Linked DNA regions of Homo sapiens. The protein of the gene in region 5 purifies or fractionates together with the protein of the main gene of each other region. This does not show direct contact. Each region holds a gene or a part of one and is shown on either strand. Other genes may lie near its edges. The genes, in order: STAT3, SKI, PRAM1, RB1, HDAC3, SMARCA4 and CCT2.

The links.
Region 1: the proteins of HDAC3 (region 5) and STAT3 purify together in Homo sapiens (affinity purification with western blotting; 4 studies listed by BioGRID). This does not show direct contact.
Region 2: the proteins of HDAC3 (region 5) and SKI purify together in Homo sapiens (affinity purification with western blotting; 4 studies listed by BioGRID and IntAct, with this or other methods). This does not show direct contact.
Region 3: the proteins of HDAC3 (region 5) and PRAM1 purify together in Homo sapiens (affinity purification with western blotting; 2 studies listed by BioGRID). This does not show direct contact.
Region 4: the proteins of HDAC3 (region 5) and RB1 purify together in Homo sapiens (affinity purification with western blotting; 3 studies listed by BioGRID). This does not show direct contact.
Region 6: the proteins of HDAC3 (region 5) and SMARCA4 purify together in Homo sapiens (affinity purification with western blotting, with the first as the bait; 2 studies listed by BioGRID). This does not show direct contact.
Region 7: the proteins of HDAC3 (region 5) and CCT2 purify together in Homo sapiens (affinity purification with mass spectrometry; 2 studies listed by BioGRID and IntAct, with this or other methods). This does not show direct contact.

What each region holds. Positions count from the first base shown.
Region 1 is NC_000017.11:42,381,943-42,385,442, reverse strand, and holds part of STAT3 (signal transducer and activator of transcription 3), read left to right. Parts: intron 1-3,500. UniProt on the Homo sapiens protein: Signal transducer and transcription activator that mediates cellular responses to interleukins, KITLG/SCF, LEP and other growth factors. Once activated, recruits coactivators, such as NCOA1 or MED1, to the promoter region of the target gene.
Region 2 is NC_000001.11:2,301,319-2,304,818, forward strand, and holds part of SKI (ski oncogene), read left to right. Parts: intron 1-1,659; coding exon 1,660-1,785; intron 1,786-1,966; coding exon 1,967-2,082; intron 2,083-2,521; coding exon 2,522-2,784; coding exon of another isoform or gene 2,785-2,790; intron 2,791-2,974; coding exon 2,975-3,267; intron 3,268-3,500. UniProt on the Homo sapiens protein: May play a role in terminal differentiation of skeletal muscle cells but not in the determination of cells to the myogenic lineage. Functions as a repressor of TGF-beta signaling.
Region 3 is NC_000019.10:8,489,556-8,492,640, forward strand, and holds the end of PRAM1 (PML-RARA-regulated adapter molecule 1), read right to left. Parts: intron 1,603-3,085; coding exon 1,545-1,602; intron 1,441-1,544; coding exon 1,332-1,440; intron 1,202-1,331; coding exon 1,039-1,201; intron 955-1,038; coding exon 921-954; intron 818-920; coding exon 783-817; coding exon of another isoform or gene 672-782; coding exon 634-671; 3' UTR 501-633; downstream 1-500. UniProt on the Homo sapiens protein: May be involved in myeloid differentiation. May be involved in integrin signaling in neutrophils. Binds to PtdIns(4)P.
Region 4 is NC_000013.11:48,366,251-48,369,750, reverse strand, and holds part of RB1 (retinoblastoma-associated protein), read right to left. Parts: intron 2,258-3,500; coding exon 2,148-2,257; intron 1,225-2,147; coding exon 1,147-1,224; intron 1-1,146. UniProt on the Homo sapiens protein: Tumor suppressor that is a key regulator of the G1/S transition of the cell cycle. The hypophosphorylated form binds transcription regulators of the E2F family, preventing transcription of E2F-responsive genes.
Region 5 is NC_000005.10:141,623,616-141,626,849, forward strand, and holds part of HDAC3 (histone deacetylase 3), read right to left. Parts: intron 2,669-3,234; coding exon 2,579-2,668; intron 2,457-2,578; coding exon 2,398-2,456; intron 2,150-2,397; coding exon 2,070-2,149; intron 1,751-2,069; coding exon 1,593-1,750; coding exon of another isoform or gene 1,505-1,592; exon of another isoform or gene 1,247-1,504; intron 1-1,246. UniProt on the Homo sapiens protein: Histone deacetylase that catalyzes the deacetylation of lysine residues on the N-terminal part of the core histones (H2A, H2B, H3 and H4), and some other non-histone substrates.
Region 6 is NC_000019.10:10,985,030-10,988,529, reverse strand, and holds part of SMARCA4 (SWI/SNF-related matrix-associated actin-dependent regulator of chromatin subfamily A member 4), read right to left. Parts: intron 3,258-3,500; coding exon 3,125-3,257; intron 2,342-3,124; coding exon 1,937-2,341; intron 1,626-1,936; coding exon 1,527-1,625; intron 865-1,526; coding exon 606-864; intron 1-605. UniProt on the Homo sapiens protein: ATPase involved in transcriptional activation and repression of select genes by chromatin remodeling (alteration of DNA-nucleosome topology).
Region 7 is NC_000012.12:69,588,459-69,591,958, reverse strand, and holds part of CCT2 (T-complex protein 1 subunit beta), read right to left. Parts: intron 2,475-3,500; coding exon 2,272-2,474; intron 1-2,271. UniProt on the Homo sapiens protein: Component of the chaperonin-containing T-complex (TRiC), a molecular chaperone complex that assists the folding of actin, tubulin and other proteins upon ATP hydrolysis.

The DNA.
Region 1 (3,500 bases), on a different chromosome or scaffold from region 5:
CCTCCTCCCGGGTTCAAGTGATTCTCGCACCTCAGCCTCCTGAGTAGCTGGGATTACAGGTGCCCGCCACTACGCCCGGCTAATTTTTGTATTTTTAGTAGAGATAAGGTTTCACTATATTGACCAGGCTGGTCTCAAACTCCTGACCTCAAGAGATCTGCCCACCTCAGCCTCCCAAAGTGCTGGGATTACAGGCGTGAACCACCTTGCCTGGCCAACATATATATACCTTTTGCAACTTTGTCAGAGTTGCTATGAAGAATAAGTTGTATCTTGTTCACAGAAATTGCAGTCTACTGGGGGAGCTGATAAATGTTTTAACCATCCAATGTAACATGTTGTCATCAAAGAGATGGTGAGACTTTACACTTGTGCTAACAAGGTAGCTGTTCTACATAAAAGAACATACAGTACAGATGTAGAACTTTTCTGTTATCATAGAACGTTCTATTGGACAGTGCTAGGCTGAATGCTACAGATCTTCAGAGAAAGGAGAGGTTATGAGGCCTGGAGTTGTCTAGAAAGTCTTTTTGCCAAAGAGGGATTTCAACTGGGTCCCAAATAATGGGTGGAATTTGATAGGTGTAAAGAATTTGCGGTGGTTTATGCCTGTAATCCCAGCACTTTGGGAGGCTGAGGCAGGAGGATTGCTTGAGCCCAGGAGTTTGAGACCAGCTTGGGCAACGTGGTAAAACTCCCTCTCCCCTAAAAATAAAAAAAATTAGCCAGGCCTGGTGGCGTGGACCTGTAGTCCCAGCTACTGGTGAGACTAAGGTGGGAGGATCACCCAAGCCCCGGGGGTTAAGGCTGCAGTGAGCCGTGATCCCGCCACCGCACTCCAGCCTGGGTGACAGAGTGAGACCCTGTCTCCAAAAAAAAAAAAAATTCCTGGTAGCCCGGTAGACTAGGAGGGTAAGTAGGGGAGAAGTGATTACTTACAAAAGACATTGAATACAGGACCAAGGAATTTCAGTTCTGTTCTTTTGTAGGGGAAGCTTTTAAAACTTTCGGGGCGCCGGGCGCGGTGGCTCACGCCTGTAATCCCAGCACTTTGGGAGGCCCAGACGCGCGGATCACGAGGCCAGGAGATCGAGACCATCCTGGCTAACACGGTGAAACCCCATCTCTACTAAAAATACAAAAAAAAGTAGCCGGGCGTTGTGGCGGGCGTCTGTAGTCCCAGCTACTCGGGAGGCTGAGGCAGGAGAAGAGCGTGAACTCGGGAGGCGGAGCTTGCAGTGAGCCGATATCGCACCACTGCACTCCAGCCTGGGCGACAGAGCGAGACTCCGTCTCAAAAAAAAAAAAAATAAATAAATAAATAAATAAATAAAACTTTGGAGCCGAAGCACTGATGTTTAATCATAGAGTGCTTACTATGTGTTAGGCACAGGCCTGATTGCCTGATGCTGGTTAATTTGTACAAAGTAAATCAGTGCATATGCCCTCTGCCCTAGGGGAGTTATTAACTGGAGTCTGACATTGTACAAAGGTAGGTATCCTGACTAGTTTGATTTGGTACTTTGGGTGAAAAAAGTATAGTGTGCTTAAGTGCAGAAGTGTTTTTTGAGGATTTTTGATTGGATACAAACCACCACTCATATTTTATGTCTTTGGCACTTAAAAATTTCACCATAACTTTTGAGTCATTTATAAAAACCACTGAAAGAGTACTTGAGGGACATCCCCGAATCCTGAAGAACTTCTGGTGTTCTGGAGCAGCCTCAGTGAGATCCAGGAGGATGGCATTGCTGGGCTGGCCCAGCCCTTATTGATTATGGTGTAAAGAATTAATATGGTGGTTATATACTCTTTGTTAGACACCTTGGCTTACAAGACGTAAGCGTAAAGTGTAGTGCGCTTTAGTCAGTATGGCCACATGGTCCTTTGGTGGTAAATTGTTTGAGATGCCTCCAGTTTTTAAAAGGAGTAGCATATCGGGCCAGGAGCAGTGGCTCATGCCTATAATCCCAGCACTTTGGAAGGCCGAGGCAAGAGGATTGCTTGAGCCCAGGAGTTCAAGACCAGCCTGGGCAACATAGTGAGACCACTTTGTTTCTTTAAAAAAAAAAAAAAGGCAAAAACAGGCTGGGCATGGTGGCTGATGCCTGTAATCCCAGCGCTTTGTGAGGCAGAGGTGAGCGGATCACTTGAGGTCAGGAGTTTGAGACCAGCCTGGCCAACATGGTAAAACCCCGTCTCTACTAAAAATACAAAAATTAGCCAGGTGTGGTGGCACACGCCTGTAGTTCCAGCTACTCTGGAGGCTGAGCCAGGAGAATTGCTTGAACCTGGGAGGTGGAGGCTGCAGTGAGCCAAGATCCTGCCACTGCACTCCAGACTGGGGGACAGAGTGAGACATTCTGACAGTGCTACACTGAATGCTACATGTCTTCAGAGGAAGGAGAGGTTATGAGGCCTGGGAATAACATATGGAAGAATGAATTTCTGTTATGGTCAGTTCTCATTTGTCATGTTAGGATTACTGCAACTCTTACCCAGCCGGGTGTGGTGGCTCATGCCTGTAATTCCAGCACTTTGGGAGGCTGTGGGCGGATCACGAGGTCAGGAGATCGAGACCATCCTGGCTAACACGGTGAAACTCCGCCTCTACTAAAAATACAAAAAATTAGCCCAGCGTGGTGGCAGACGCCTGTAGTCCCAGCTACTCAGGAGGCTGAGGCAGGAGAATGGCATGAGTCCTGGAGGCGGAGCTTGCAGTGAGCTGAGATCGTGCCACTGCACTCCAGCCTGGGCAACAGAGTGGGACTCCATCTCAAAAAAAAAAGAAAAAAAAAAGGATTACCGCAACTCTTTAATTCAGATCAGCAAACATGTTGAGAGCCAGGTATTGCGTCAGGCAGGATCCAAGGATAATGAAATATTGTCCGTTTTCATGAAACTGGAGATGTTGCAGGGACCGAGGTGTGTGCTATGCCAGTATGGAAGTAGGACAGGGGAGACGACAGGGCAGTGAGTGGTTCAAGACTCTGGCTCTGAAGTCAAACAGATCTGGGACTGAATCCTGGATCTGCCACTTCCTAGTCAGAATCTGAGCCTCTATTTTCTTATCTGTAAAAGAAGATTATAACAGTGCTTATCTTGTAGGTACTGTTGACGATTCAATAAGATAATGTGGATAAAATGCTTAGCATAGTGCCTGGCACATAGTAAGAGCTCGGTAAATCTAAGTTCTTACTAAATATCCAAGAAAAGAGATTAATTCTTTTCAGGAGTGAGAGAAAGTCATCATTATTGAGGGGCTTTATCAGATGGGAACACCTGAATAGGGTTTTATAGGATGAATAGGAATTCTTTCCACGAAGTTGCGTTACAAAAAGTTGCATTCAAGGCTGAAGGAACATGAGGGTGCAGAGGCTTAAAACAGCCTTGTGTGTTCAGGGAGCTATAAGTAGAAGTTCTTAATTTAGGAGAACTAAACCAAGGGGAAAGGAGGCCAAGGAACCACAGTTCTTATCCCTTTTCTGTTAATAATTGGG
Region 2 (3,500 bases), on a different chromosome or scaffold from region 5:
CTTTTTTCCTGAACAGCTATTTTAGTGTCTCTGAAAAAAACCATCCACAGCCGTGAGCCTTCAGGGGCTGCCTGCCCTGCGTCCCCGGCCCTGTGCGCCCGAGCACTTATCTTTCTCCCTTGGGCCCAGGTCAGAGCCAGGCACCTGCCCCTCCCCTGGCCCCACCCTGCTTGTTCCCTGAGGGCTGCAGGGTGGGTGCACGTGCTGCAGGGGAGGCCACGGGCTTTGGCCAGATCTTCCCCCAGGGCCCTCCATCCCCATAATTGGAGCACCTTGATGGACAGCCTGCCCTGCGCCCCATCTTCCCCCTAGGGAAGCAGGGTCCCTGCTGCCTCCAGGAGGCTGGTTCCTGATGCAGCGTCTTCTCCTAGAGTCCTGGAGGTGGGAAGAGCCCCCGGCCCTGAGTGTGCTCTGTCCACCAAGGCTTCCTGGCTGAGGGCAAGGGCGGAGCCCCCACCGCCCGACTTTGCTGCCTCCTCTTGAGGTTGGCCTCGGCAGAGTGAGTGGGACCTCACCCCTGTGAAGGGCCCCTTGCCCTGTGTGGCCTGTTCTGCATTGGCCTGTGGTGTAGACCTGGTGCCAGCTGCCCTGGAGACTCTGTGCTGTCCTGTGGGGTCTTTGGCAGTAGAGGAATGGCCCATTTTACGGAGACTGCCCTGTGATTTTGCTTGGGAAGAGACCTTGGGTCTCAGTTGTGCCTTGCGGGCAGCACCGTCTCAGGGGTTTCCAGCCGCAGGGCTGTGGGAGTTCACGTTTGCCTGAGGCTGGATGTACCGGCTCAGGCCCCCAGCACACAACCCACATCACTCACTGGCTCTTGGGGGATGTGCCTCAGCACCTGACACACAACACCTGGTTCTGAGTGGGCTGGGTCCAGGCACCTTCGCTAAGCTTCCTCCACCAGCGGGACCTGGTTCTGGGTGGGCTGGGTCTGGGCACCTTCGCTAAGCTTCCTCCAGCACCGGGGCTGGCAAGGAGCGAGGCAAAGGTGTGTGTGGTGCCATCCTGTAGGAGCCAGGCTCCTTGGGGATGGTGTCCTTCATTTTGAAAATGTTTCCTTCCCATGGGGAGGGGGCAGCCAGAATGCCCACTCTTTAATGCACCTGTGCCAGTGGCCCACAGGGACACGGTGTCCCCTCCCCGCGACCACCCCTGTGCCGCAGCTGCCCTTCCCAGACGCATCCGTCGTGAGTGGCTCTCGCCGTGCTGTGGCTGGTTGAGCTGAGTGCCCAGCGCTGGGCACCCTCTGAGGACACACTCGGGTTCTAGGAAAGGGGTTTGGCAGGAGAAGGACGAGGGACTCCTGGCCAGGCTGAGCCGCTGTGGAAGGGGAGAGTGGGTCTTGGTGCTCCATCCCAAACCTGCTGCAGCCGTGGGTGAGGTCACCCGGAATGGCAGGACAAGGTCCACTCTGTTCTCTCGGAGATGACTTGTCCCTCAGCACAGCCTCCACGTGCCTGTTGCGCGTGGCCTAAGGGCCTTTATGCAAAGTGAACTTGGTCTCCTGGGGGGTGCCCTGGAATCTGCCTTCTGCGCCACTCAGGGTCGTTTGTGGCCGGAGTGCATGGGGCTCTGACTGCCATGTGCCAGCCACGGGGCTGGTGGAGGGACCCTGCCCTGGGAACCACAGGTGCCAACAAAACCTTTCATTGATCGCAGGTCTCCTCTGAGCCTCCGGCCTCCATAAGACCCAAAACAGATGACACCTCTTCCCAGTCCCCCGCGCCTTCCGAAAAGGACAAGCCGTCCAGCTGGCTGCGGACCTTGGCCGGCTCTTCCAATAAGGTGCTGTGGGGCCTGTCGGGGTCCTTGGGGTGGTGGGTACTGGGCCCTTCTCCTTGGGCAGACCCAGCGGCTGGCAGCTCCACCTGCCCGCTACTGAGGGCTGGCACCCGGCGCAGCCTCAGGGACATGAAGTGGCTTGTTTTTCTCCTGGTCACTCACACAGACAACTCTTTCTCGACAGAGCCTGGGCTGTGTTCACCCTCGCCAGCGCCTCTCTGCTTTCCGACCCTGGTCCCCCGCAGTGTCAGCGAGTGAGAAAGAGCTCTCCCCACACCTCCCGGCCCTCATCCGAGACAGGTGAGTGGGCGCCATTCACAGGTGTTTCTGATCACGGGGGAGGCTCCACGAGGGCTGTGCATGCGGACGCGCCCATGTTTCTGCAGGCTGGGTGCCCAGACCTGCCGCCTTTTGGTCAGGGCAGTCTCGGTGTTGGTTCCTTTGGCTGGCATCAGGGAGAGCACACCTAGAGCGTTCCCTGTGTTCTGGGTGGAGTCGTGGGTGGAGCCCTGTCTGCTGGGCGCAGCTTCTTGATGTGTTGGCCTGTGTCTGGCCTTCGCAAGAGACCCAGCAAGCAGAAAACGCTTACGGGTTCTTAGGGAACTGTAAGCTTGACTTGAAGATTCGGAGCTGGGAAAGTCTTTCCTGTTTAACACCTTCAGAGGGGGTGTGCGCCAGGATGTGTCTGGGTGGTGCTTGGGGACAGAGGCACCTTCCCGACACCCGCCTGCCCCTCCAGCTTCTACTCCTACAAGAGCTTTGAGACAGCCGTGGCGCCCAACGTGGCCCTCGCACCGCCGGCCCAGCAGAAGGTTGTGAGCAGCCCTCCGTGTGCCGCCGCCGTCTCCCGGGCCCCCGAGCCTCTCGCCACTTGCACCCAGCCTCGGAAGCGGAAGCTGACTGTGGACACCCCAGGAGCCCCAGAGACGCTGGCGCCCGTGGCTGCCCCAGAGGAGGACAAGGACTCGGAGGCGGAGGTGGAAGTTGAAAGCAGGGAGGAATGTACGTGTGAGTCGCTTTCTGTGCCTCCTCCCTGTGGGCTGTGGGGGTGGCACTGGCTGAGGGGGGCTGGTCGCCGGGGGTGCGTTGGTGGCCCCATGTTTCGCAGGTTCCTCCGGGAGCGGCGCGTCTCCCTGGTGTGGAGCTGCCGGGCACTTCCATGACTTTGTTTCTGTCTCTGCTTCCTCCTCAGTCACCTCCTCCTTGTCCTCGCTCTCTTCCCCGTCCTTTACCTCATCCAGCTCCGCCAAGGACCTGGGCTCCCCGGGTGCGCGTGCCCTGCCCTCGGCCGTCCCTGATGCTGCGGCCCCTGCCGACGCCCCCAGTGGGCTGGAGGCGGAGCTGGAGCACCTGCGGCAGGCACTGGAGGGCGGCCTGGACACCAAGGAAGCCAAAGAGAAGTTCCTGCATGAGGTGGTCAAGATGCGCGTGAAGCAGGAGGAGAAGCTCAGCGCAGCCCTGCAGGCCAAGCGCAGCCTCCACCAGGTGAGCGGGGCGAGTGGTGCTGGGAGGTCCAGGGCACGGGCAGTGAGCACAGCCTGCACCAGGTGAACGGGCACAGGTGGTGCCTCCTCCCTTCCTGGCTGCCCCATGCGCTCCTCTCTGCCTCCACCTCAGTGGGCCTGCCTGGGACCTTGGGGGTCCGTCTCCCAAAAGCTGCAGCCCTGGGTATGGTGAGCCCCTCAGTGTCCCCAGGCTGATGGACATCCCAGGAGGCC
Region 3 (3,085 bases), on a different chromosome or scaffold from region 5:
GGGCACAGGCCCTGCCTGAGTCAGGCTTGTTCTCTGGCTTTTTTTTTTTCCTGCTGAAACAGACCAAACTGTGTGCCACCTTCCATGCGTGTTCAGTCCTGCCAGAGGCTCAGGCCAAATCTGATTGATACCTGGGCTCTGTCAGAATTGGGTATAGGCCCCACCCCTTCCCCCAGTGAAGCGCTCTCAGGATCCACTCAGGCCAAGCAGGTGTGCATACCTGGCAAGGAGGCCTGGCTGCTGCTGTTCTGTTGGCTGTGGAGGGGCGCGTCCTGCCCGGCTGCCTGCCTGGTAGCACATGCTGTTCTGATCACCCGGAGCCCCCCTTGCTCACCAGCTTCTTGCCACCCTTTTCTCCCCACTGGCTTTTATCCCTGAGGGGTGAGACCATGGCAGGGTGACCCCAGACACACCCCCTTTTGTGTTTGGTCAGGGGGTTCCCGTGCCTTTGCTCCACTGTGTGCCAATCAGGAGGGAAAGAAAAGACAAGAAGCAGGGACTGCTTTAAACTGGGGCTTTATGTGGCCAGGTACAAGCCCAGGCAGCTCTGTGACTTTCCCGCGCCGGGATCCAGGGCTCCTGGGTGAGCGGGCGCTGGGCTGGCTGGCTGTCCTGGCCCCACGCCTACCGGTCTTACCGTCCCAGGGGGAGTGGTTGGTTTTCCAGGGGATCTGCCGAGGAAGCGTGACTTCCATGGACCCCTCTCCCCAGAAGCCCAATAGTGAGCAGCGCCCCCGGGGAATCGCCAGGGTCCCTCCAGCCCTCCCAGAGTGTCCACGTACCGCAGAAGTCGACATCATCGTACACCTCCGTCTCCCTGGCAGAGCACAGTTGGGTCAGCAAGGGGCACCGTGGCCCATTCCCCCCACCCTGCACCACACACCCCGCACTCCCCCACCACGGTCAGGGCTGGCACTCACAGGGGCAGGAGCGCTGTTCTGGGCACGTAGCCATCTGTGGAGAGAGTGGGCATGGTGGGTTCTGAGGCCCAGGGTGGCGGCGGGGACCTCCCGGGGCTGCGGGGCCGGGCGCACTCACATTTGCCTTTGGGGTCCCGGCACAGCATCTCCTCATTGCTGGTGAACTCGATCACCTCCAGGATCTCCCCGCGCCGGATCCCGAGGTGCTTGCCACCCCCGCGACGTGTCTTAGCGTTGGGGTCGATCATCATCTTCGTGTGAACCACGATCTCCCCTTCAAACTGGGGCGCGAGATGTTAGGGCCTCTGCTTGTGCTGCCGCCCTTGGGCCCCTGTCTTCTTTCTGAGCCTGGGATCGGTGGGACCCTGGTCTCCGCCCTGCCAGGACTCCTGCTTAGCTCAGAGGCCTCACCTTGAACTTCTTCCGGAACTCCCTCTCGGCCTTCTCTGCCTTCCTCAGCTGCTTCAGCAACTTTGGGTCCATGGGTGGCAACTGCTGTGGCTGGGGATCCTTCTCCTTCCTGATAGCCCCCACCAAGGAATTGTGTGCTCGTGAGCAAGTTGTGCTCCTCTGGGGGTTCCTGGAGCTCGCCCCCCGTCTGCCCACCCCCTCTGCCCATGGCACCTGAGCGCTGGGTCTTGTGGTGGCCTCCTGGCGGCTTGCTGAACTGAGGGCGCTTCATCTGGGGACAGTCAGGACTCCGAGTCAAGGCAGGGCCCGCCGGCTCAGCCTTTACCCTGGTAGCTGTTTTTTGTTTGTTTTTGTGTTTTTGTTTTGAGACGAAGTCTTGCTCTGTCACCCAGGCTGGAGTGCAATGGCACAATCTCGGCTCACTGCAACCTTCGCCTCCTGGGTTCAAGCGATTCTCCTACCTCAGGCTCCCGAGTAGCTGGGATTACAGGTGTCCATCACCACACCTGGCTGATTTTTGTATTTTTAACACAGACAGGTTTCACCATGTGGGCCAGGCTGGTCTTGAACTCCTGACCTCAGGCAATCCACTCGCCTCGGCCTCCTAAAGTGCTGGGATTACAGGCGTGAGCCACTGCGCCTGGCAGGTGGCTGGATCTTGAGTAAGGCCTCCCTGTGTCAGTTCTGAGGACTCCCCAAATCCCACCAGGTCCCCTCCCAAACCTCTCCCTGCCCACCTTCTTCCGCAAGCCTTTCTCAGGGGTCATGGGTTCTTCTGGATTGCCTTCCATTCCCTTAACTCCTGCCACGTGCTCAGCATGGTGGGAACTGCTGGGCCACGCCCCTCATGGCAGCCCTCTCAGCAACCTTGTTCATGCCAGTAGACGCCACTGTCATGCCCAACTTGTCCACAAGGAAATAAAGGCTCAGAGAGGTCAAGCAAACTGCCCAAGGTCACCCAGCTGGTAAATGGTAAAGGCAGGATTTATCTGTAGGCTTCGAGGCCATTTCACTTCTGCCTCCTAGAGCAAGTTGGGTCTAGGGTTCTTTTTTATTTTTTGAGACGGAGTTTTGCTCTTGTTGCCCAGGCTAGAGTGTGCAATGGCGCGATCTCAGCTCACTGCAACCTCCACCTCCTGGGTTCAAGCGATTCTCCTCCCTCAACCTCCCAAGTAGGTGGGATTACAGGCACATGCCACCACACCCGGCTAATTTTTTTTTTTATTTTTAGTAGAGACGGGTTTCACCATGTTGGCCAGGCTGGTCTCAAACTCCTGACCTCAGGTGATCCACCCGCCTCGGCCTCCCAAAGTGCTGGGATTATAGGCGTGAGCCACCGTGCCTAGCCGTTTTTTTTTTTGTTTCTTTTGTTTTTGTTTTTGTTTTTGAGACGGAGTTTCATTCTTGTTGCCCAGGCTGGAGTGCAATGGCATGATCTCAGCTCACTGCAACCTCTGCCTCCTGGGTTCAAGCGATTCTCCTGCCTCAGCATCCTGAGTAGCTGGGATTATAAGCACCCACTGCCACACCCAGCTGATTTTTGTATTTTTAGTACAGATGAGGTTTCGTCATGTTGGCCAGGCTGGTCTCTAACTCCTGACCTCAGGTGATGCCCCTGCCTCAGCCTCCCAAAGTGCTGGGATTACAGGCCTGAGCCACTGCACCCGGTAGGTTCTGGGGTTCTACTGTAATGAGATTTGGGTGAAAAACTAAGGCAGAAGGGAGGATGAGGAGAGGCTGGCCCATGGGTACAA
Region 4 (3,500 bases), on a different chromosome or scaffold from region 5:
GAGTAGCAGTTGGTAATCCATGGAAAGAAAAGGAGGAAATTTCAAGAAGAGGGAATATCAAGTACGAGGGTTTTCAAAAAACTTGGAAAGCCCAAGAAACAGAGAAGGCCAAAGTGTGGCTAACACAGAGTGAGAAAGAAAACAAGATGAGGTTGGAGAGGCAACAGAAACCAGACCATATAAGATCTTTTAGGCATTGTTAAGGAATTTGCACTGTATACCAATTGCAATGGGAAGCAGTCAGTGGGTTTAACAGCAAGGTGAATGTAACTGATTTACATTTCTAGGAGAAATTCTGGGGGCTCTATGGAGAATATCTTTGATGGTGAGGAGACAGGAACAATGATGAGACCAGAAGGAGCAAGATCAGGTAGTAGGCTACTGCAAAAAATCCAAGAGAAAGAGAACAATGTCTTGGACAAGAGTTGTGAGAGCAGAAATGGAGAAAAGTAGATGCACTCAGGAAATATTTTGGAGGTAGATTATTCAACAAGCCTTGATAACAGATTTTGATGTGGGAAATGAGTGAGGAAAAAGACATAAAAAATAGTTCTAATCCTTTAAGGTTGCATGCAGATCAAATAGTGATACTTTAATTTTTTCTTTTTTATTTACTGAAATGGAACACATTCCTATTTTAGGTTATGTTCTTTAAGAACAGACAAAACTAGGTCCAATAACCATATCTTCAGCAACCAGTAAAATGCCCAGCACACAAAGATTATATATACACATTTTTTTTTTGAGACGGAGTTTCGCTCTTGTCACCCAGGCTGAAGTGCAATGGCACGATCTCAGCTCTCTGCAACCTCCGCCTCCCGGGTTCAAGCAATTCTCCTGCCTCAGCCTCCCGAGCAGCTGGGATTACAGGCACACACCACCACCCCCAGCTAATTTTTGTATTTCTAGTAGAGACGGGGTTTCACCATGTTGGCCAGGCCGGTCTCAAACTCCTAACCTCAGGTGATCTGCCCGCCTTGGCCTCCCAAAGTGCTGGGATTACAGGTGTGATCCACCACACCTGGCCTTCAATATATATTTCTTACATGTATGTATGAATACATAAAGAAACGTGAACAAATCTGAAACACTATAAAGCCATGAATAACAAAATTATAATATAATTAAAAGTAGGAAAATTCATACCTAACTGGAGTGTGTGGAGGAATTACATTCACCTCTTCATCAAGGTTACTTTTTCGTGGTGTTCTCTGTGTTTCAAAACTAAATAACAATAAGTGAAGTCATTCACATACTGAAAATTTACAATTTGTGCTTTATGCATCAAAAAAGCAGTATAATGCTTCTGTTGTCTCATAAAATCATATAAAATGATAACTCAATAATAGATAGGATAGAAAATAGATGACCCAGCTGCTGCTTAAATAAAATATTTTTCACTACTCTTTTTAATTGTGGGTCTCTTTCCATTATGTTTATGACAAAGAGGTATACCAATCATTAAGTCTTTTTTTAAAAGTGAAAGTCAGATGCTTTCTCCCTGGTGGTATTGATAACCAAGTTGTTCAGTATTAAAAAGCATTAAAACTCAAGTTTTTCAATGCATTATTCCTTCTAAAAACTTTATTTCCACTTAAATAAAATTTAAAACATTTTACTGTGTTTAACTTCTAAATTACGCATATTTTCAGTTTCATATTAAAAGAGTTCATGCTAAAGACACAAAATTAACTTTACTTATGATCAGTCAAAAATTTTAACAATCACTCTCAACCATTCCAATTTTAGGTTTCTACATGATAATAACAGAGACTACACTTTTGTATAAACTTTTTTAAATAAACCAGGCAGGCAATAGTATATGAAAGGATAGAAATAAGGTAGAGACCACTATTTGAAGAAACTAATTACTTTAGCCATTATCTTTTGGTGCACATTTTAAAAAATTATATTCAGTTAACTGCAAAAAGGTAACTGTTATAGGACACACAATTCACATTAAATCTATATTTGTAGATAAGTTATATGCTTAAAATACTGTTAAACTTTTCTTTGTATAAAGACATTTGAAAGTAATTTGTTATAAATGATATCTAAAGGTCACTAAGCTAAAGACTATATAATCTACCTATATCAGTATCAACCTATATCTAAAGCAAATCAATCAAATATACCATGTGCAATACCTGTCTATAGAATCAGTCTGAAGAGTTTTATCATGATCCAAAAATAATCTTGCATCTAGATCTTTATTTTTAAGATAAATTTCTTCGTATCGTTTAGAAAGATTTTCAACCTTGAAAGAAAAAAGTCACTGACAATTATCCTTTACATGTCATTACATCTCTCAGCACACAGAGGCACAGATTTCATTAAAGAATTTTTGTATAATATACATTTAATTTTGTAATATACACTGAGTTCGCATGCAATATAAATAAGGTCTATCTAAAAGTGAGGTACAGAAAATTGCAACATTTGTTCAACTTTGATTTTAGGTCTATTTCGTGCATAGAAAATATTTATTAGAATTTTATGTAGACAAAGATAGCCAATGCTACAAAACAGTACCTAAGATAAAAATAGGTATTATAATAACTGTTTAACTGCCAAGATTTTCCAAACATCCCATATATGCTTTACTTTTAATCTTTTTTTTTTTTTTTTTTTTGAGATGGAGTTTCGCTCTTTCGCCCAGGCTGGAGTGCAGTGGCACAATCTCGGCTCACTGCCACCTCTGCCCCCGGGGTTCAAGCAACTTTCCTGCCTCAGCCTCCCGAGTAGCTGGGATTATAGGTACCTGCTACCATGCCCGGCTAATTTTTGTATTTTTAGTAGAGACGGGGTTTCGCCATGTTGGCCAAGCTGGTCTTGAACTCCTGACCTCAGGTGATCCACCTGCCTCGGCCTCCCAAAGTACTAGAATTACAGGCGTGAGCCACCGCGCCCAGCCTGCTTTTAATCTTTTATGCTTATCAATATAAAATATTTTTTCAAACATTGTTGCAAATCCTCTTGATTACATATTCTACCAATGTTTTCTAAACCCTTTGGTTCACTCCAGTACCCTTCAGTTAAGTATCTTGGGCAAGACAATTAGCTCAATTTATCAGTTCAATTAACACACTTGCACAATTTATTCCCAATCTTAGATACTTTTTCAATTGCTAGAATTTGTAAATCTTTCATCAGTTCTGATCCATAATTTTTTAATTATACTTTAAAAACCAATGCCCAAGAGAAAACTATTGGCATGCCTTCTACTGTGACTTTTAACGCCAAAGTGATTCCAACCTCAGAGAAGTAAAATTGCATTTTAAAAGGAGTGATAGGAAGAAATCCAATTAAATGCAAACTTTTCATTAATCTTCATAAATGTATTAGATAGAACAGTAATCCATGCTTATGTTTAATCATTGTTCCTGTCCTACCTTAGTTGAGGCACTAATTACCAGTCATCTATTGATTGGCTATATTATGTGAAATATTGGAGAAAAAGTAAAATTACTCTTAAGATTTATATTAAAACTATAATCCTT
Region 5 (3,234 bases):
TTCCTCACTCAGAAGGGATCGGGGGATATCCTTGGAGGAAGAGAGTTGCAGAGATCCCCAAGAGTCAGAGCAGTAAAGCCCAGGTCCAGAGGAGAGATTCGGAGGCCTGAATTCTAAGACAGAAGCAGATTCTAGAAGGGGCTGAGAAGCCCATCAGGCTCTGCAGCAGAGCCGGCTCAAACCTCTAACCCTGCGTGGGAGCAAGACAGCGTGTCCCACAAGTGTCCAGCTGTGGTTATCCCTCAGTCATGTAAGGAAATCTGTTCCCCATTAAGTGCATCTGTTTCTGCACTTCTTGGTTCTGTTGTCTTTCCCTTTCATTTTTCAGCAAAGTTTTGGGATTAAAAAAAAATTCCATCCTATCCTTTTTCCCCCCTAATTCATTCCATCTACAAATATTTTGTATGTATCTCAGAAAGATAAAGACTTTTAAAAAAAAAAAAAAAACATAACCACAATGCAATTATCCCACCCGAAAAAATTAACAGAGCAAAGAAATCAAAGAGCCTTAGAGAGTATTACGCAGGCAGTGACCTGTCCAGCTCAAGACCTGGAAAGACTGAGAAAAATGCTGGCAAGACTATAGGGTGCTACAGACTTTCTGGACGGCAATTTGGCAGCAAATATAAAAAATTTTAGGCCAGGCTCAGTGGCTCACGCCTATAATCCCAGCACTTTGGAAGGCTGGGGCAGGAGGACATTTGAGCCCAGGAGTTTGAGACCAGCCTGGGCAACAAGGCAAGACTCCGTCTCTACCAAAAAAAAAAAAAAAAAAAAAAAAAAAAAAAAAAATTAGCCAGGTGTCGTGGTGCACACCTATGATTCCAGCTACTCGAGGGGCTGAGGCAGGAGGATCGCTTGAACCCAGGAGTTCAAGATTGCAGTGAGCTATAATCATGCCACTGTACTCCAGCCTGGGTGACAGAATGAGACCCTGTCTCAAAAAAAAAAAAAAAAAAAAAATTAATGCACACAGCCTTTGACCTAGCAGCAACCATTCTACTATCTAACCCACTCAAACAAGAATGCAAAGATGTATAATGTAAGGGGGTTCATTGCCACATTATTATTGTAATACCAAAAAAATGGAAAATAATCTATCCACATAGTAAATTATTATACAGCTGATAAAATACTGAAGCAGATCTATATTAGCTAGCTGAAAACAGCTATATGATGTAAAGCAGCATACGTAGAATGACCCTATTTGTATTTACGAAAAACCAAAAACCACACAAACTGTAAATGAGTGTATATGTGTTTGTTTATATGTACATACAGAATAGTATATTTGCAATCTATAGAAAAAGGTCTATCCAAAACAATAAAAACTATTAACAGTGGTTACTCCTGTGGAATAGGTCTGGGATTGTGTGAACGCCAACACCATATTTTGGTGCTGTTTTAAAATTTTGCAATAAATACGTGTTACTTTTGTCATTAAAAATAACAAAGAAAAGAGTGAGGAAATTGTAGCAGACTAAAGGAGGTAAGCCAGAGGCAATTAAACTAATACCTTCCCATTTACTTTTTCCCTTTTAAACCTCCCCAGCAAGCCTATTGAAAGTAGGCTGAAGTCCCTGCTCCCAGACCTGCTATAGTTCTCCTCAGGACCCCTCTCCTCTGCATCAGCCTCATCAGTCCTGTCATAGGTCAGGAGGTCTGCAGGCACGTCATGAATCTGGACACTAGGTGCATGGTTCAGCATCTTCAGGTTTTCAAAGATTGTCTGGCGGATCTGGTCCAGATACTGGTTGGAAATGAGGAATACAGAGTGAGCAGTTTCCAGAGATTCCCAGGACATGGAATCTCCTAGCTGCCTTTTACCCCTACCATACTGGTTTTCATCTCAGTGGTACCTCTAGTTCAGGTCCCCCAACTGATAGCTCTCCCTCCCCACCAACCCCAACTGCCTCTACTTTAAACTGGACTGCCTCCTAGTCAATAACAGTGACTGTGATGGCTTAGAACTTCCTTCTCTTTGGTTTTTCCTACTTCCCACATCTTTGACCTCTCCTGGGCTCCACCTTTCAGGAGAAGTTTGTGCTCAGCTTTTCTGAGCTGCTGACCTGGCGTGAGTTCTGATTCTCGATGCGGGTGCTGACATCTGGATGAAGTGTGAAGTCTGGGGCAAAGTACTCGAAGTATTCTTGGGGAGGAGAGGAGAAAGTATGGCTCAGACTGAGAAAGGCAGCTAACAAGACTTCCCAATCTTTTTCCTTCCCATCCAGAGCACCTACATAATAGCTGCCCAATCTCTTCCCTGCTCTGAGCCCAGGGGTTTAGTCTGCAGAGCTCTGAGAGTGTAAAATTTCCCATGTGCCTTCAAACCAGGTCATTCTGGAATCTGGTGAGAATGGCCTTCCTGTTATGGGGGTGTTGTGGGGTGGTCCTTACCACTATAGGGAAGCTCCTCACTAATGGCCTCTTCTACCAGCAGCGATGTCTCATATGTCCTGAAACCAACCAGCAGAGGGGAGCAGGCTGACCAAGTGGGCTGAAGGACCCATGTGGCCATATCTGAGGGACACCCTAGCTCACACTGGACAACAGGGGAGGAAATCAGGAGAGTGCTCACCAGCAGCGGGCAACATTTCGGACAGTATAACCACCACCACCCAGCACGAGTAGAGGGATATTGAAGCTCTTGACATATTCAACGCATTCCCTGTTAAAAGGAACCAGAGGAAGATGTGGAGGAGGTTATCAAAAGACAAGGTAAATACCTTTAGGTATTGCCTGAAAGGAGCACAAGAAAACTATAAATGTTCTAAATCTTTATCTTGATAGTGAAATTCATTATGTTATACCCTTAAGATTTGGGTATACTTTATATGCTGTGTCTCAATAAAAATTTTAAAATAAAGCACAGTCCCCCCTCTGTTCTGCTCAACACCCTCCCTGGCACCCTGCCTGCTAATCAACTATTCTCATCAACCCAAGTTCTGTCAATTCTAGCCTTGAAAATATAACTCACGCCCGGCGCGGTGCTCACGCCTTTGTAGTAGTCCCAGCTACTCAGGAGGCTGAGGCAGGAGAAATGCTTGAACCCAGGAGGCAGAGCTTGCACTGAGCCAAGATCGTGCCACTGCACTCCAGCCTGGGTGACAGAGCAAGACTCCATCTCAAAAAAGAAAAAAAAAAACATATATATGTGTGTGTGTGTGTGTATATATATATATATACACACACACACACACACACCTCTCAGATCATCTACTTCTCTCCATTGCC
Region 6 (3,500 bases), on a different chromosome or scaffold from region 5:
GGGTGAGGAAGGATGCTGGGCAGGAGTGGACATAAGGCAAAGCTTATTGGGCAGATAATTGAAGCTACAGGCAGGTTTTAATCCACGGAGTAGATCTGATATCAATCATAAAAAGAGAATTCATGCCAGGTGCGGTGGCTCATGCCTGTAATCCCAGCACTTTGGGAGCATCTGAGGTCAGGAGCTCGAGACCAGCCTGACCAACATGGAGAAACCCTGCCTCTACTAAAATAAATACAAAATTAGCCAGGTGTGGTGGCGCATGCCTATAATCCCAGCTACTCAGGAGGCTGAGGCAGAAGAATCGCTTGAAGCCAGGAGATGCAGGTTGCAGTGAACCGAGATTGTGCCATTGCACTCCAGCGTGGGCAACAAGAGTGAAACTCCGTCTCAAAAAAAAAAAAAGAGAGAGAACTCAAACTGCTGTGTGGGAAACAGACCGCAGCCAGGGTGGGAGCAGGGAGGTGAGGAAGGAGGTGTAGGCCAAGTGGCAGTGGTGGGCACAGGGCACTGTTTGCTAGAGTGGGGGAGAAAGTTGAGTGGCTTCCCCAGGGGGACATGGGGGACACAGGGCAGTGACCTTGGCAACTGGGCCCCGCCCTCACCTGTACTCGCGCTCCTGCAGGATCTCCACAGGGTCGAGGCCCCGCGGCTTCTGGATGGGGGTGATGCGGCTCTGCTTCTGGTGCAGTGGCACCATGGGCGCGGGCTGGGCCGGCTGCCCGGGGGACTGGGTCTGCGGTGGCATCACGGGCGAGGCGGCGGGTGGGACGGCAGGGGGCGCGGGGGAAGGGCGGCCCGTTGGCTGCGGGGGAATCAGCTTCTGAGGGGTGCTCGTGGGGGCAGCAGCATTCGCCATGGGTCCTGGGAGAAGGCAAGGGGCCAGGGCGTCATGTTGAGCTCTGGGGCCCATCCCGGGCTGGAAATGGAAAGCTGCTGAGCTGCTTGAGGCACTGGGGACAGGCAGACCCCGCCCATCTCCCACCTTTCACCCAGGGGTGTCCTTCACACCTGCCTTGGGCTCCAACCTCCTCCAGATCTCAGCCTCACCCTCGTCCTTCACACCCTCCACTGGGGCCAGCCCCAGGCTCCCAAGGCCTTTTTGTTCTGTCTGTGGCTCTATGGCAGCATTTCCTGTCATCTCCTCCTAGTGCCAACTAAATCCAGTGGAAGCAATTTGCCCCTCAATGCCCATCGCTAAACCTCAGGCTCCAAGAGGATGGGTAATGAGTCCCACTGCCTCTTTGAGCCCAACAGATGGGAGCCTGCAGCACTTACTGAGCAATTACATATACAGGGCTCAGGGACTGGGTGAAGGCCACAAGCTGTCAGAGGAGGGATGAACGACAGCCTTTGGGAACTGACTGGCTACAGGGGAGACCCGGGGACCACCACAAGAAAAGTACAGGCTGCAGTTCAGCCTGACCACCCTCGGCCCTTTCTCCCTGACAAAGCTCATCTCAAGGACCCAAGCTTGAGATGGGGAGTAAGGGCACGGGTGCACCACCATAGAAGAGGGAGCTCACCTTCAGGCCAGGGCTTGGGAGGCCCTCCAGGAGGCTGGCCTGGCATCCCGGGGGGCACGCCCGAGGGTCCTGGGGGAGGCATGTTGGGCCCTCCCATACCTACATGTAGGGAGAAACAAAAGAGAAAACAGTGCGTCCCAGGTTTATGCCTGCGCCCAGCCCCGTGGGCAGCCCTGGCTCCAGGGGACACAGCAGATACACCTATTAACCAGCGGCCCCAGGGGAAGCGGGGAGCTGGGGAAGCAGCATTTAGCTGCCCCCACCACCCGAGCACCCAGAAGTGCAGTATGGGCCCGTGCAATCCCAAACCGGGGAACCCAGTCGGCAACAGAGCACGGTCTGTCCACCCCGCCACCCACGCCCCAGCCATTCGCTCTGAGACACCTGAGGGCCAGGGCAGCCAGTCTTACCATGAGGCCTGCTGTAATTTGGAGGTGCCGGGCCGGGACCCGGGCCGGGGCCAGGGCCAGGGCCAGGGCCGGGTCCTGTTGCGGACACCGAGGGTGGAGGTAGCGTTGGCATCTGCTGCTGCATCCCGGGCATCGGCCGCTTGCCCTGCACCGCCATCTGCAGGTGGTCGGGGAGGGGCTGCCCCCTGGCCAGCATCTTGTAGGCCATGATCTGAGCTCTGAGCTGGTGCAGCTGGTTCTGGTTAAATGGGGTTGGGCCCCGGTTCTGCTGCCCCAAGGCCTGGGGGTCAGCACCATCCAGCGGGGCACCTCCTGGCCCGGAAGACATCTGGGGCCCCGAAGACGGGCCACTGGCTGGAACTGGACTAGAGGCATGCTCAGAGCCACCCAGGGGCGAGGGGTAACCTGCAGAGAAAGGTCAGCCCACTGGTCACTCGGCAGCATATGTCTGTGATTTTTACAGCCTCTTCCCCCTACACCAGCTCCTACTCTGAGACAGGGCACAGCCAAATGGCATCCTTCTCTTGAGTCAACCAGGGGCACCTGGAGGGCACATGCTGAAGGCACCTCAGCCCAGCAGCCGACCTGGTGGATTTGGTTTGGCCCACGTCTCAGTAAGGTGCTTCTGGTTAATGCTGAGAACCTGTGCATGAAATCACGGCTCTCTCCCGGCTTCCGCCTGCCTGTCCACAGGCGGGGTCCACATCCTCGGGCTCGCCAGGCCCACCCCCAACACTTCCATTCCCAGTGCAGCCCCTGAGCTTCCCACCCCTGATGACAGCAAGGCCTTGGAAAGTCACCCACCATATCACTTCTCAATTGTCCTCGTACAGAAAAGGCACCTGCTGGGCTCATTAAAGCAGAGTCCCAGGCCCCAGGAATCTGTATTTCCAGTAAGTTCCTGGGTGGCACGGGGCTGCTGCCCTGCACAGCCCTCCTCTATCACCCATGCTGAACATGGTCTGCCCCCCAACCAGCATTTCCCCTTCCAGGGCTGCTCCGAGACGAGGTGGCCAGAACAGAGCACCAGCCACGCCATGCCAGACAGCTCTCTGTGGCGGGCCACCCACCCGGCTACATCATCCTAGGTACTCCCTGAATCCATCCTGTGGGAACCCAGGGGAGGAAAATGATCTGAGGACTCTGGAGTATGACAAACACAAGGCAGGAAGGAACGCAGTTCTGTACCTTGGGAGTGCTGGTCCATGGGGCTGGGCGGGGGCCCCATCCCAGCATGGCCCCCTGACCGCATCCCCATTCCTTTCATCTGGTTGTAGCGCGGGTCGTCCGACATGCCCTTCTCATGCATGGACTCCATGGGCTGCGAGAGGGACCATGGCAAGGCAGGGTCAGCATGTGGAACGTGAGGTGGCAGCGCAGCTATGCGCTGCCCGAGAGAAGCTCGAGGGCACCGAGAACAGCCACCCGAAGATGACGCGCATCTCCCCAGTCCCCAGCATGACTCCAAGGCAAGGTTCTGACACCTACTTAGGCCTCGAGACAGGTACACAAAATAAATGTCGCCCAGTGGAGCACGAGCATATGGGAGACTGTGGTCAAGCAA
Region 7 (3,500 bases), on a different chromosome or scaffold from region 5:
AGCTATTTAAGTCCAATTTACCAAGCTCTTAGAAGGCATAAAAGCAAGCTTGTCCAACCTGCCTTATTCTGTTGTTGTTTTGCTTTTAGGCTTTTAGCGCCTGAAAGCCATGGATTTTAGTTTCTGTCTCTAGTGATAAGCAGAAAAGAGGGAGGAGGAAGGGGCTTTACCGACCCAACCAGAAACAGAAACTAGGAACCCATGACTGTATTCTCTTCCTTGGACACTTCTGGTATAAAGCATCCCACTAGAAGAGTTATTACAAAATCAATTTAATGGGTTACTTAAAAAATATGAAACAGAAAATATAAGAGCACAGTACAGACAATAAAATTAAACAGTATTTTGAAACTTTTGTTTCAGATATACGCTACACCCACATCTGTATGGGTTGCAATATAAAGACAATAGGTTAAGTCCTATATTTTTATTAGCTTAAAATCACCACCACAAGAGAAAAATTGAAGATTCAGGTATTGAGGCTGGTGGTAAAAATGGAAAAACCATGGACACCGTGGAGTCAGATAAATCTGACCCTGATCATGCCCCTGCTGCTGGCTATATAACCTTCGACAAATTATCCAACCAGAAATGCTAATTTGTAAAACAGGAATGTAACCAGTAGCAGAGGTGCTAGTTACCAGCCTAGTCCTGCTGCTTTGGAACCATCATACAAACCCAGTACCACCTACCTTTCTAGGCCTTTTTTTGGTTACATTAGAAACTTTTCCATTATGAAGCCACCATTATCTTGGGTTTTCTACTCTATTCAAGTGAACCTAATCCTCACTCACCAGGTCATGATGACTAAATGACTAAAGTTCCTATTACAATTCCTAGTACAGAGCAGACATTCAAGAATGGTGCTGCTTGTGCTACTAATATTCTTGTTTTAATGCTCCTTCCCTACCACCAGCCCCTATCAGAAATGCTACGCAGCGGCCAGGCATGGTGGCTCACGCCTGTAATCCCAGTACTTTGGGAGGCTGAGGCAGGTGGATCCCCTTAGGTCAGGAGTTCGAGACCAGCCTGGTCAACATGGCGATACCCCGTCTCTACTAAAAATACAAAAAAGTTAGCCAGGCATGGTGGCACACGCCTGTAATCCCACCTACTCAGGAGGCTGAGGCAGGAGAATCGCCTTAACTCAGGAGGCAGTGGTTGCAGTGAGGCGAGATCATACTGCTGCACTCCAGCCTGGGTGACACAGCCAGACTCCGTCTCAAAAAAAAAAAAAAAGAAATGCTACACAGCTCTTGTATATAAACTTAATCAAGAGTATTTTCAGAATTATGACTCTCTCTTAAAATAAATCAAGACCTATGACACAGAACAAAACCAGGACTCCAAACCACTGGTAAAAACAGAAGTTGTAAAGCACCATCTAATTCTTTTTTTTTCCTTCTCTATATAAGAATGCCTATACTTTTTGACAGGCCATTTTGTGAAGTAAATATAATGTGAAGATGATCTGGAAAACTTCACTCTAAACAAAAATGTACTACTAAGAAAGCAGTACTTATTATGTCTCATTTATCACTCTTTAAGAACTAGATCCTCTTGCCCTATAAACATACATAATTATTTGTTAAAGAAATTTTTTTTAATTCTTTTCTAAAAAAAACTAGTCATCCCCCAGTATACGAAGGGGACTGGTTCCAAGACGCCCACATACACCAAAATCCCCACATACTTAAGTTCCAGGCTGACTGGAACCAGCAGATTTGAAAAGCTGGCCCACTATATACATGGGTTTCAAATCCTGCAAATACTGCATTTTCCATCCACGTTCGGTTGCACATGTGCAAACCACGGACACAAAGGGCTGACTATATTTATTGAAAAAACCTGCATTGTGAACCTACATAATTCAAACCCATGTTGTTCAATGGTCAACTGTACATCCTCAACAACCAGCTAACACAATGATTTGACTGACCCAGACCCTTCCTGGAGAATACATATAATCCTGGTAAAAGTACCATTTGAGAATAGATGATTTCTAGTAAAAGAAAACATTTCCTCTTTATCAGAGACTGCAAATAACTTCATGGTAGTTAAGTAAACTCTAGAGATCATCAACAATGCTGGAATAGCGCGGGAAGAGGAGTACACTGTCAATAAAATGACAAAAATGGTTGCACATATGATATGTCCTTAAATTCAAGTTCACTGGCTTTGTAAAGGGTCACTGGTCTCAAAACAGAATTCACTCAGTATTCAGCCCTCAGCATCTAATCAAAGCTTCTTGTATCTGACATTCATACATACCTTCATCTAAATAGGAATCTGCCAAACTTCCTCCTAGCTTCTTGATAATATGAATTGCCTCCAGGTTGCCAGAGCCTTTCAGTCTGAGAACTGCTTCTACAGCTAACTTTGTAAAGTGGTCTTTGTGATGAGTAAGAAGTTTTGAGGATAATGTTGTGCCCGCAATATTCATTAAATCTTGACGGAATTTAACTTCATCGGAACTAAATAAAACCAACCAAATATACATATTAACCCTACTTTACTTTTCAAAATTTATCTAGATATTCATGTCAATAGATAATTTTACCCTAACTGATCAAGTCTGTAAGCTATATGAAAAGAATTAAACCTCAGCAGTAATCAAGAAACACAAATTAAAGATGTTATTTTCCCCACCAAACTGGCAAAATGCCAAAAAAAAAAGAGGGGTGGGGGCCACACAAGCATGCAAAAGTCTAATGTTGGCAAGAATGTGAGAAATGGCCGGGCACAGTGGCTCACGCCTGTAATCCTAGCACTTTGGGAGACTGAGGAGGATGGATCACTTGAGGTCAGTTCAAGACCAGCCTGAGCAACATGGTGAAACCCCATCTACACTAAAAATACAAAATTAGCTGGCTATGATGGCACATGCCTGTAGTCCCTGCTACTTGGGAGGCTGAGGCAAGAGAATCGCTTGAACCCGGGAGGCAGAGGTTGCAGTCAGCCGAAGTCGTGCCACTGCACTCCATTCTGGGCAACTCTAAGAGCGAGACTCCGTCTCAAAATAAATAAATAAATAAAAGGACGTGAAAAACAAGTATTATTATACAGTTGTGAATGGGCAAATAAATAGAAGTGCCTTAAAACAGTGGTCCCGGACCTTTTTGGCACCAGGGACTGGTTTCATGGGAAGACAATTTTTCCACCTGCTGCTCACCTGCTGTGCAGCCCAGGTTTGGGGGTGCCTTAAAACACACACACTTACCTTTGGACCCAACAATTACACTTCTAGAAACCTTTGGGCTATGTCGCAACGTCACAAAGTTATTTTATAATGCTAAAAATCATCAAATACACAAATCTCCCCCTACAGATAGGTTAATACAGTCATTCTAGCCAAATATTCAAATGTGTAACTCTATTAAAATACTGCACAGAAAATTGACATCCAAAAATGTGCTTAATATTTAACTAGGTTAAAAAGAGGCTAACAAATTCTCTATACAGTATTATACTATTTGCTTTATTTGTATATTTTGATGATA